Linked DNA regions of Homo sapiens: all the other regions are linked to region 2. The links come from fine-mapping of genetic effects on gene expression. A gene starts in region 2. Each other region holds a variant in brackets. All regions are shown on one strand. Distances are between the middles of the regions.

Region 1 (2,844 bases), 170 kb before region 2:
CATAGAAATATTTACAGATGAAATGACACAGCACCAGAAATGGCTTTAAAATAATTTAGTGATAGGAGCATGTGTGGAAGAAACGTGGGTAGGTTAAAAGATGAACAAGTCCGGGCATGGTGGCTCATGCCTGTAATCCCAGCACTTTGGGAGGCTGATGTGGGCAGATCACCTGAGGTCAGGAGCTCGAGACTAGCCTGACCAACATGGAGAAACCCCATCTCTACTAAAAATACAAAATTAGCCGGGCGTGGTGGTGCATACCTGTAATCTCAGCTACTTGGGAGGCTGAGGCAGAAGAATTGCTTGAACCCGGGAGGCGGAGGTTGCGGTGAGCCGAGATCACGTCATTGCACTCCAGCCTGGGCAACAAGAGCGAAACTCTGTCTCAAAAAAAAAAAAAAGAAAAGATGAACAAGACTGTCTGAGAGTTGATAATTTTTGAAGCTGGATGATGGGAACATCATTCATTATGCCATTTTCTCTACTTCATGTGGGTTTAAGCATTTTCACTCAGGGGAAAGAAGACGAGAAAAGTACCTGGCACACAGTAGCAGATCAATAAATGATAGCTTAGGGTTATTTTATGATGTGCAAACTGTACTTCAGGGAGATTAAGTAACTTACCCAAAGTCACACAGAATTGGCAACCATGACCTACTTCTCAGAAAGTCCTAGGCCTGTGTAGCCCAGTTGGGCAGCAACAATAATCACAAAAGCGACTCAGTTAAATTGAATTTTTATTCCAAATGACTAATATCTAGAAAGGCAGTAGCTAACACTCAAAACAATTTGTTTAAGTGTAAATTAAAAGCAGTTGATTTGCAGGAGAGCAAACAGTGGGGTAGTGGCCATGGCACTCTGATCATGGTTATATCCAAGAAAGCATAAAATAACCAATGTCCTGATATGCAATCTGGATGTGCAGCATTTACAGCAAACAACATAAAAAGAAAGAAAGAAGAATGGAAAAGAAAAGAAGAAAAAAACCACCACAAAGTCCCAAACCTCAGAAATTAACATTCACTTAAGAACACAGTGGTGAAGACTTTTGGTAGCAAAATTTGCACGGTTCTTAAAATGGGAGTCTTCAAAAGTACTTCTTCAAATTCAAAAGCTAAGAAAACCAAAGAGGGAACAGTTACACAGGCTTAGTGGAGATGCCGCCTGTCATGAAGATGACCATCAGTCCTACTTCCCAGACACAGTGAGAACCGGTGAGCCTGACGAACCTGAAGGAAAAGGCTGGCTGACGGGTGCTGATGCCACTGACTATACAAGAACACACCGGGTCAACTCATCATTGACAGCGAGAGACACACTACTGCTCCTCCTGGCTGATGCCAAGGCTGCCTTTCTGCACCTCAAGCTCCTCGGCACTGACCATTGATGGGTCAATGGCCGC[G/A]TATTTGGTTCCATGGAATTGCAGCAAATGTATCTGTTGAAATGCAGAATCATTATTTTATTTATTTTTTGAGCTGGAGTGTCACTCTTGTTGCCCAGGCTGGAGTGCAGTGGCACTATCTTGGTTCACTCCAACCTCCGCCTCCCGGGTTCACCCAATTCTCCTGCCTCAGCCTCCCGAGTAGCTGGGATTACAGGTGCCCGCCACCATGCCCAGCTAATTTTTGTATTTTTAGTAGAGACAGGGTTTCACCATGTTGGCCAGGCTGGTTTTGAACTCCTGGCCTCAAGTGATCCATCTGCCTCGGCCTCCCAAAGTGCCAGATTACAGGTGTGAGCCACTGCACCCTGCCAGAATCATTGTTTTAAATGGCTGCATTACAGAGTAAAATGTATACTGCCTTCTATAAAAAGTTTGGTAGGAAAACATCACCATAGTGGACAAATGTTTTATACTTCTAAAATTTACAGACTAAGACATACTAAATAGAGAAAAGTCAAACAATTTTTTGAAACCACATTTGGGATCTTTGTTCCTCACTCCCTGAGCAGTCTCCCTGAGTCCCTGCAGAGTCTCCTGAGACATCTTAGATGGTGCATGCTCATGAGATGTTTACCCTTCCCTTCTGCTGCTGTGAGTTAGGTCCTTCCAATCTTCTGCTACTGTGACTAGTGCTGCTATGATGAATATCTCTGGGCATCAAGTATTCCTGTTTAGGATCCTGTCTTCTATAAGGGGATGACAGGATCAAGGGATATGACTGGTTTTTGGGATTACAGGTGTGAGCCACCATGCGTGGCCAGGATATAACTGGTTTTTTAAGGCTCTTGATTCATCTTGCCAAACTGCCAGGGCACTCACCCCTCACTGCTATTCTATTATCCATTTAGTTAGAGTATGAAGGGATGGTGTTTGTTAGGGCTTTCTTTTCTTTTCTTTTTTTTTGAGACGGAGTCTTGTTCTGTTGCCCAGGCTGGAGTGCAATGGCGTGACCTCGGCTCACTGCAACCTCTGCCTCCAGGATTCAAGTGATTCTTCTGCCTCAGCCTCCCGAGTAGCTGGGACTACAGGTGTGCACCACCACGTCCAGCTAATTTTTTTTGTATTTTTAGTAGAGACGGTTTCACCATATTGGCCAGGCTGGTCTTGACCTCCTGACCTTGTGATCTGCCTGCCTCAGCCTCGCAAAGTGCTGAGATTACAGGCATGAGCCACTACGCCTGGTAGGGTTTTCTTTTAATGCATTAAAATTAGATCAAGAAGTCACTTCACAGGACTCAGATTGACCCCATTTAGGTCTGGTGTCTTGCTCTGATGGAATTCACTGTGTCCAGAGGGCAAGGTCACATCATACCAATAGTAACCTCAGTGTGTGAATGCAGGCCTGCTGTCCTTAGAAAAGGGATGGTGGCCAGAGAGTCACTGGGGGATCTCTAATA
Region 2 (2,500 bases):
TTCACCATCTTGGCCAGGCTGGTCTTGAACTCCTGACCTCGTGATCCACCCGCCTCCGCCTCCCAAAGTGCTGGGATTACAGGCGTGGGCCACCGCGCCCGGCCTGTATTTTGTATTCTTAAAACCACCTAGGGCAGTACAAGACACAAGGAACTAGACACTTACTGGTTTTGAGAGTAAGTGGACAATGTTGGAGCAGGATAGGGGAGACCTGTCATTCGTGCAGTGCCACCGTGTAATCCTATACTTTGTGTTTACAGGATTTTACAGTGCACCTGGAACTTTTGTGTACCACACATCATTAACACAAAATTAACATGGTGGTATGAGCTGGGAAGGTTAGCTATCGCTTCATTTTGCGCGTAAAACAGAGGCTTAGCCCTGGGAAATGGAAGTTTAAAGCCTCCTGCTGCTCCAGGTTCCAACCACCACCACTCCTACCCCCATGAGCGGCCGCTGCTCTCACCCGCTTCTTCTCCTCCACCTCCTGCACACACTTCACCCTCCAGCGGTCAATCTCCTGCTCGCGTTCCACTGCCCGCGCGGCCTCTGCCTCCCGCTCGGCCTCGCGTTCCCGGGCCCTCTCGCGAAGCCGCAGCCGGCGGCGCCGGACCCTCTCCAGCCTCCTCCGCGCCTCGCCCACATAGGCAGCCTGGGTCAACGGCTGTAGCCGCTCGGCCAGTTCCGCGCGCAGCGGCGCGGTCTGGGAGTACAGCAGGACCCAGGCCGCGCCGTCGGCTTCGGCCTCGCGCAGGGCCTGGCTCAGGCCGCGCAGCCGCCGCACCAGGCGCAGAGCCCGGAGCAATCGCGCGCGCACTTCGCCAAGGCTGGGCCCGGCATGCGTGCGCTGGGGCACCGGACAGCCTGCCCGCCGCGGGGTCCCGAACACCGCCTCCAGCCACTGCCGGTCGCGCAGGCGTTGGAGGGCCGCATCCCCGAGCACGTCGGCCGGCGGCGGCGGCGCCTCAGGCCACCGCGGGCTCCAGGGCGGCCCCGGGCCGGGAGGCGGTGGCCGCGGCCGCTCGCCGGCGTCGGTCCCCGGGAAGGGCCGACACTGGGGCGGCGGAGGAGGCAGCGGCGGTGGTGGCACCGGGTAGAAGGCGCCAGCGCCGCCTCCGCCGCGGGAGGCCTCCGCGGAGGCTCGGGGCTGCAGAGCCAGCGGAGGCTGAAGGAAGGGGGCGGAGGCCCCCGGAAAAGGGCCGGGCCGCTGGGGGAGAGGCGGCGGGAAAGCCGGGGAGGGCAGCGGCGGTGGCGGACAGCCGAAAGGAGCAGGAGGCGGCGGCTGCGGGGGCGGTGGGCCTGGGCGACCCTGGCCGAAGAATGGTGGCAGGGCCATGTTCACGACGGAGATGCTTTGAGAAGTGACAGGAATCTGAGTGGCTCCTCATGAGAACCTTCCGACGGAAGTGACGTCGTTACGACGCGCGACCCCTGTAGACTCGTCCCTCCGGAAGGCTCAGTGCATAAGTGGGCAGTCGTTCAACCTTCTGTCGTTCAGTTCATAAATACCGTTCTTATTGAGCATCCTAGGTGCAGAGCTACCCACTCCGCATACAGTGAGACTGAGAGATACAGAGCTTCTCTTCGTGGAACTATCTGCCTAGTATAACACACTAATCAATTAATCATGGTGAGTATCTTCGAGAAGTTGGAGAAGGTTATCCTAAGAAACTGCGGCTGCAGCTGAGATCTGGAAGATAAATAGTTAAATAGAAAAAGAGAGGGAAGCACAGTGCAGATGAGAACATGTGCAAAGGCCCTAGTAAATAGGAGTGTGACCAACTACCCATTTTCTTAGAAAAATGAATTATTTTTACTTTTCTCCTTTCACCCCACCTCCTATTTAGCTCTTTAGGAATGCAATTATAGGGTGGGTGCTGTGGCTCACGTCTGTAATCCCAGCACTTTGGGAGGCCGAGGCAGGCGAGATCGGCCTGTAGTCCCAGCCATTGGGGAGGCTGAGGTGGGAGGATCACCTGAGCCCTGGGAGGTAAAGACTGCAATGAGCCACGATAACGCCACTGCACTCCACCCTGGGCGACAGAATGACACCTGTCAAAAAAAAAAATCCAATTAACCTTTACCTTCTCTCCACCAGACACTCTCTACACTGTAAGCTTATCTAATTATGTGTTCGCTTATTAGTTCCAAGGACCGAAGCTTAAACCAGGGACCTCTGGAACTTTCCCATACCAGGGGATTGCCTGGGGACAACTGTCAATTTACAACCTAGCTCCCCGCTACCCCCCACCCCCCCTCCGCCTTCGCCCCAGCCTCCATGGCGCCAACCAGATCACTGATGGATACATAGGAGCAAGTCCCATAGACCCAGCACCTCCTTGGTCCCTCCCCACCCCTTGCATGCCATCCAGGTCAACCAAGTCCCGTGCACCCCCCACTTTTTTTGAGACAGAGTCCCTCTGTCACCCAGGCTGGAGTGCAATGACGCACTCTCCACTCACTGCAACCACTGCATCCCAGGTTCCAGTTATTCTTGGTG
Region 3 (2,844 bases), 290 kb before region 2:
GATTATAGGTGTGAGCCACCACACCCAGCCACAACAGGTATTTTTTGAATGGACGAATCAATGAATAAAGAAACCACTCCAAGTCCTGATCCCTCTATCTCTTTTCTAGCTCTTGAATCTATCCTCCACATCTTCGTAACCACTGCTCTGGTTCAGTGGTTCAGCAAGTTGCATTACATCCAACTTGGATTTCTGGAATAATCTACTCAATGGACTACCCTGTCTTTCTTGCCCATATTGCAGTCATGAAAATGAGCTTGTAAGATGAAAATGAGATTGTGTCATACCTCACTTCAAGCTTCAGTAGCCCCCTGCTACTTGCAGGAGGAATTTCAATCCCTTAGGTCAGCACTCAAGGCCTTTAGTGCTCTGGCTCCTGCTGCCTCGTTGGCGGCATCTGACCGAATTCGCCTTCCCCATCCTGCCCCCAACACATATGACCACATAAAGACTGCCTACAATTCACCTAACAAGTCAGGATATTCTACAAGTTCTCACTTTTGTGAGATGTTCTCTTGTCCTGAACTTTCCCTCCGCCCCTATCCAACTAACCCTGCTGGAATACAACTCAACCCCTCCTCTGGGAGCCACTCTCACCACACACCATGTACTTTTTCATCAAAGTCCTTCTCAGGGCTGGGTACCATGTCTGAGGTCTATAATCCCAGCACTTTGGGAGGCCAAGGTGGGAGGATTACTTGAGCCTGGGAGGTTGAGACTGCACTGAGCTGTGATTGCACCACTGCACTCCAACCTGAGTGACGGAGCAAGACCCATATTATTATTTTTTTAAGTGTCCTTATCAGGACTTGTCTACCTTCCTGCTGGTTTGGTTCATCAGCTCTCCAAGGCAGGACCTAGATCTTACGTGGTGTGGTCACACGATGCTGCCCAAAGGAGTCATGTGGAGTCAGGCAGGGTTTGAATCCAGTCAAGTGGCCTTAACCAGGTCATCTAACTTCTTCAAGCCTCAGGTTCCTGATCTGTTCAATGAGGATAACAATTGTATCTATTTCATGGATACTTTCGTGAGGATTAAATGAGATATAGGGAGAGTTTAGAATACTGAGTAGATAACAGGGGGCCTTACATTCTTTTCAGTGAATAATTGTAGGATGATGCCTTAGAAAGCACCCCCACTTAAGGGGCACTCAGTACACTTTGCAGAATGATTAAATG[G/A]TACACACACAAAACAGACCCCCACACCTCCCAAACCTTCAATGACTTCCCATTGCCCTGAGGTTAAAATGTGGTCTCCTCCACACAACCTACAAGGCCCTCTCTGCACAAAGCTGTCTGCTTTTCCAGACTGGCCGCCCTACATACACATGCTGTGCTGTTCATGCCTCCATGCCATTGATTACACGCTGTCCCCTCTCCCTAGAATGCCTGTCCTACCCCTTTGTCCTGGTTCTGGTGCCCCTTCTCTGTGCATTTACCTTCTCATTTAACACTCGGCATTCTCATCTTCTTACATGCCTTTCTCCCCAGTAGAGGACAGGGATCCTGAGCTCTGCCATTATCTCCCAGCCACTATTGTAGGGACTGACAGACAAAGAAAATAAAATATGTGTTGAATGAAAGCACACAGTATAGAGGCAAAACCAGAGGGTTTTTTGAGCTAGATGGGGAAACTGAGGCCAGAGTAGTTCTCAATGGCTCATTCCCCAAAATGACAGAACTATTTGGATGTCAAACCAACCTGTCCTCACTGCTCTCTCCCTACAAAGGGCTGCTTCTGTGTAACAAAATGAATTTCCCCAGGGTCTCTGGTCTGCTGCAGGTGGAGCATGAGTTTCCAGATACAAGATCTTCTGAGTCCTTGATCATTGGAGTAGAATGCTGCACAGCTCTGCAGATTGAGGGAGTAAAACCATGTGGTGGCCGAAAGAGGTTGCTACATATACAGACTATCTCAGATCCTCAGCCTCAATTTTCCTTCATCTTTCCTTCCTTCCTTTCTTTCTCTCTTTTTCTTTCCTTTCTTTCTTTCTCTTTCTTTCTCTTTTCCCTCCTTGCGTCCCTCCCTCCCTCCCTTCTCTCTCTCTCCCTTTTTTTTTTTGACAGAGTTTCACTCCTGTTGCCCAGACTGGAGTGCAATGGCGTGATCTCAGCTCACTGCAACCTCCGCCTTTCGGGCTCAAGCGATTCTCCTGCCTCAGCCGCTCAAGTAGCTGGGATTACAGGGATGCACCACCTCGCCTGGCTAATTTTCTATTTTTAGTAGAGACGGGGTTTCTCCACGTTGGTCAGGTTGGTCTGAACTCCCGACCTCAGGTGATCAGCCTGCCTCAGCCTCCCAAAGTGCTGGGATTACAGGTGTGAGCCACCGCTCCCAGCTCTTTCTTTTCTTTCCTTCCTTCCCTCCGTCCTTCCTTCCTCTCTCCTTCCTTGTTTCTTTTCTTTCTTTCCTTCCTTCATTTCTCTTTCTTTTCTTTTTCTTTCTTTCCTTTTTTCCTTCCTTCCCTCCCTCCTTCCTCTCTCTCTCCTTCCTCTCTCTTTCTTTTCTATTCTTTCTTTTTCTTGACCAGTGTGATAATATCAGCCTCAATTTTCTTCATTCCTTTAGCTAAAGGATCCCAGGCCTAGGCATGAGGGAGAAGTGTACCTGCATCTCCTTCCCCCTTGGCCTGGGAGCCCCAGGCTGCCCTTTTCCGTACAGGGCTGGAAGTAGCCTGGGAGCCTGAGGGCTGGCAGAAGGCCGTGAAAGGGGAGCTTGGTCGCTGGCACAGCCGCTGCTATGGCAGCCAGAGCCGAAGAAGGTCACCATTGATCTCACATGCACTTAATTTTCCCTTCCTTGGCATGGGACGGGGTTGACCAGGAGAGCTAAGGGGGAGTATG

Evidence for each region. PIP is the estimated chance that this variant, and not a neighbour inherited with it, causes the effect.
Region 1: its variant is fine-mapped to the expression of PDCD7 in whole blood (TOPMed, PIP above 0.99).
Region 3: its variant is fine-mapped to the expression of PDCD7 in blood mononuclear cells (TOPMed, PIP 0.99).

The regions. Positions count from the first base shown.
Region 1 is chr15:64,962,299-64,965,142 of GRCh38, forward strand. SPG21 (SPG21 abhydrolase domain containing, maspardin) reads right to left here. Exons shown (of 9, transcript NM_016630.7): 9 at 724-1,438. The coding sequence ends at 1,322. Among named protein-coding and RNA genes, the nearest start is that of SPG21, 26 kb to the right of the region's middle. The variant G/A (reference allele first, on the strand shown) is at 1,406.
Region 2 is chr15:65,132,446-65,134,945 of GRCh38, forward strand. PDCD7 (programmed cell death 7) reads right to left here and starts at 1,363. Exons shown (of 5, transcript NM_005707.2): 1 at 467-1,363. The coding sequence starts at 1,336. RefSeq lists silencers at 589-988, 1,049-1,258 and an enhancer at 1,549-1,648.
Region 3 is chr15:64,838,152-64,840,995 of GRCh38, forward strand. LOC124903508 (a long non-coding RNA gene) reads right to left here and starts at 2,005. Exons shown (of 4, transcript XR_007064682.1): 1 at 1,703-2,005; 2 at 1,440-1,545; 3 at 869-983. The variant G/A (reference allele first, on the strand shown) is at 1,180.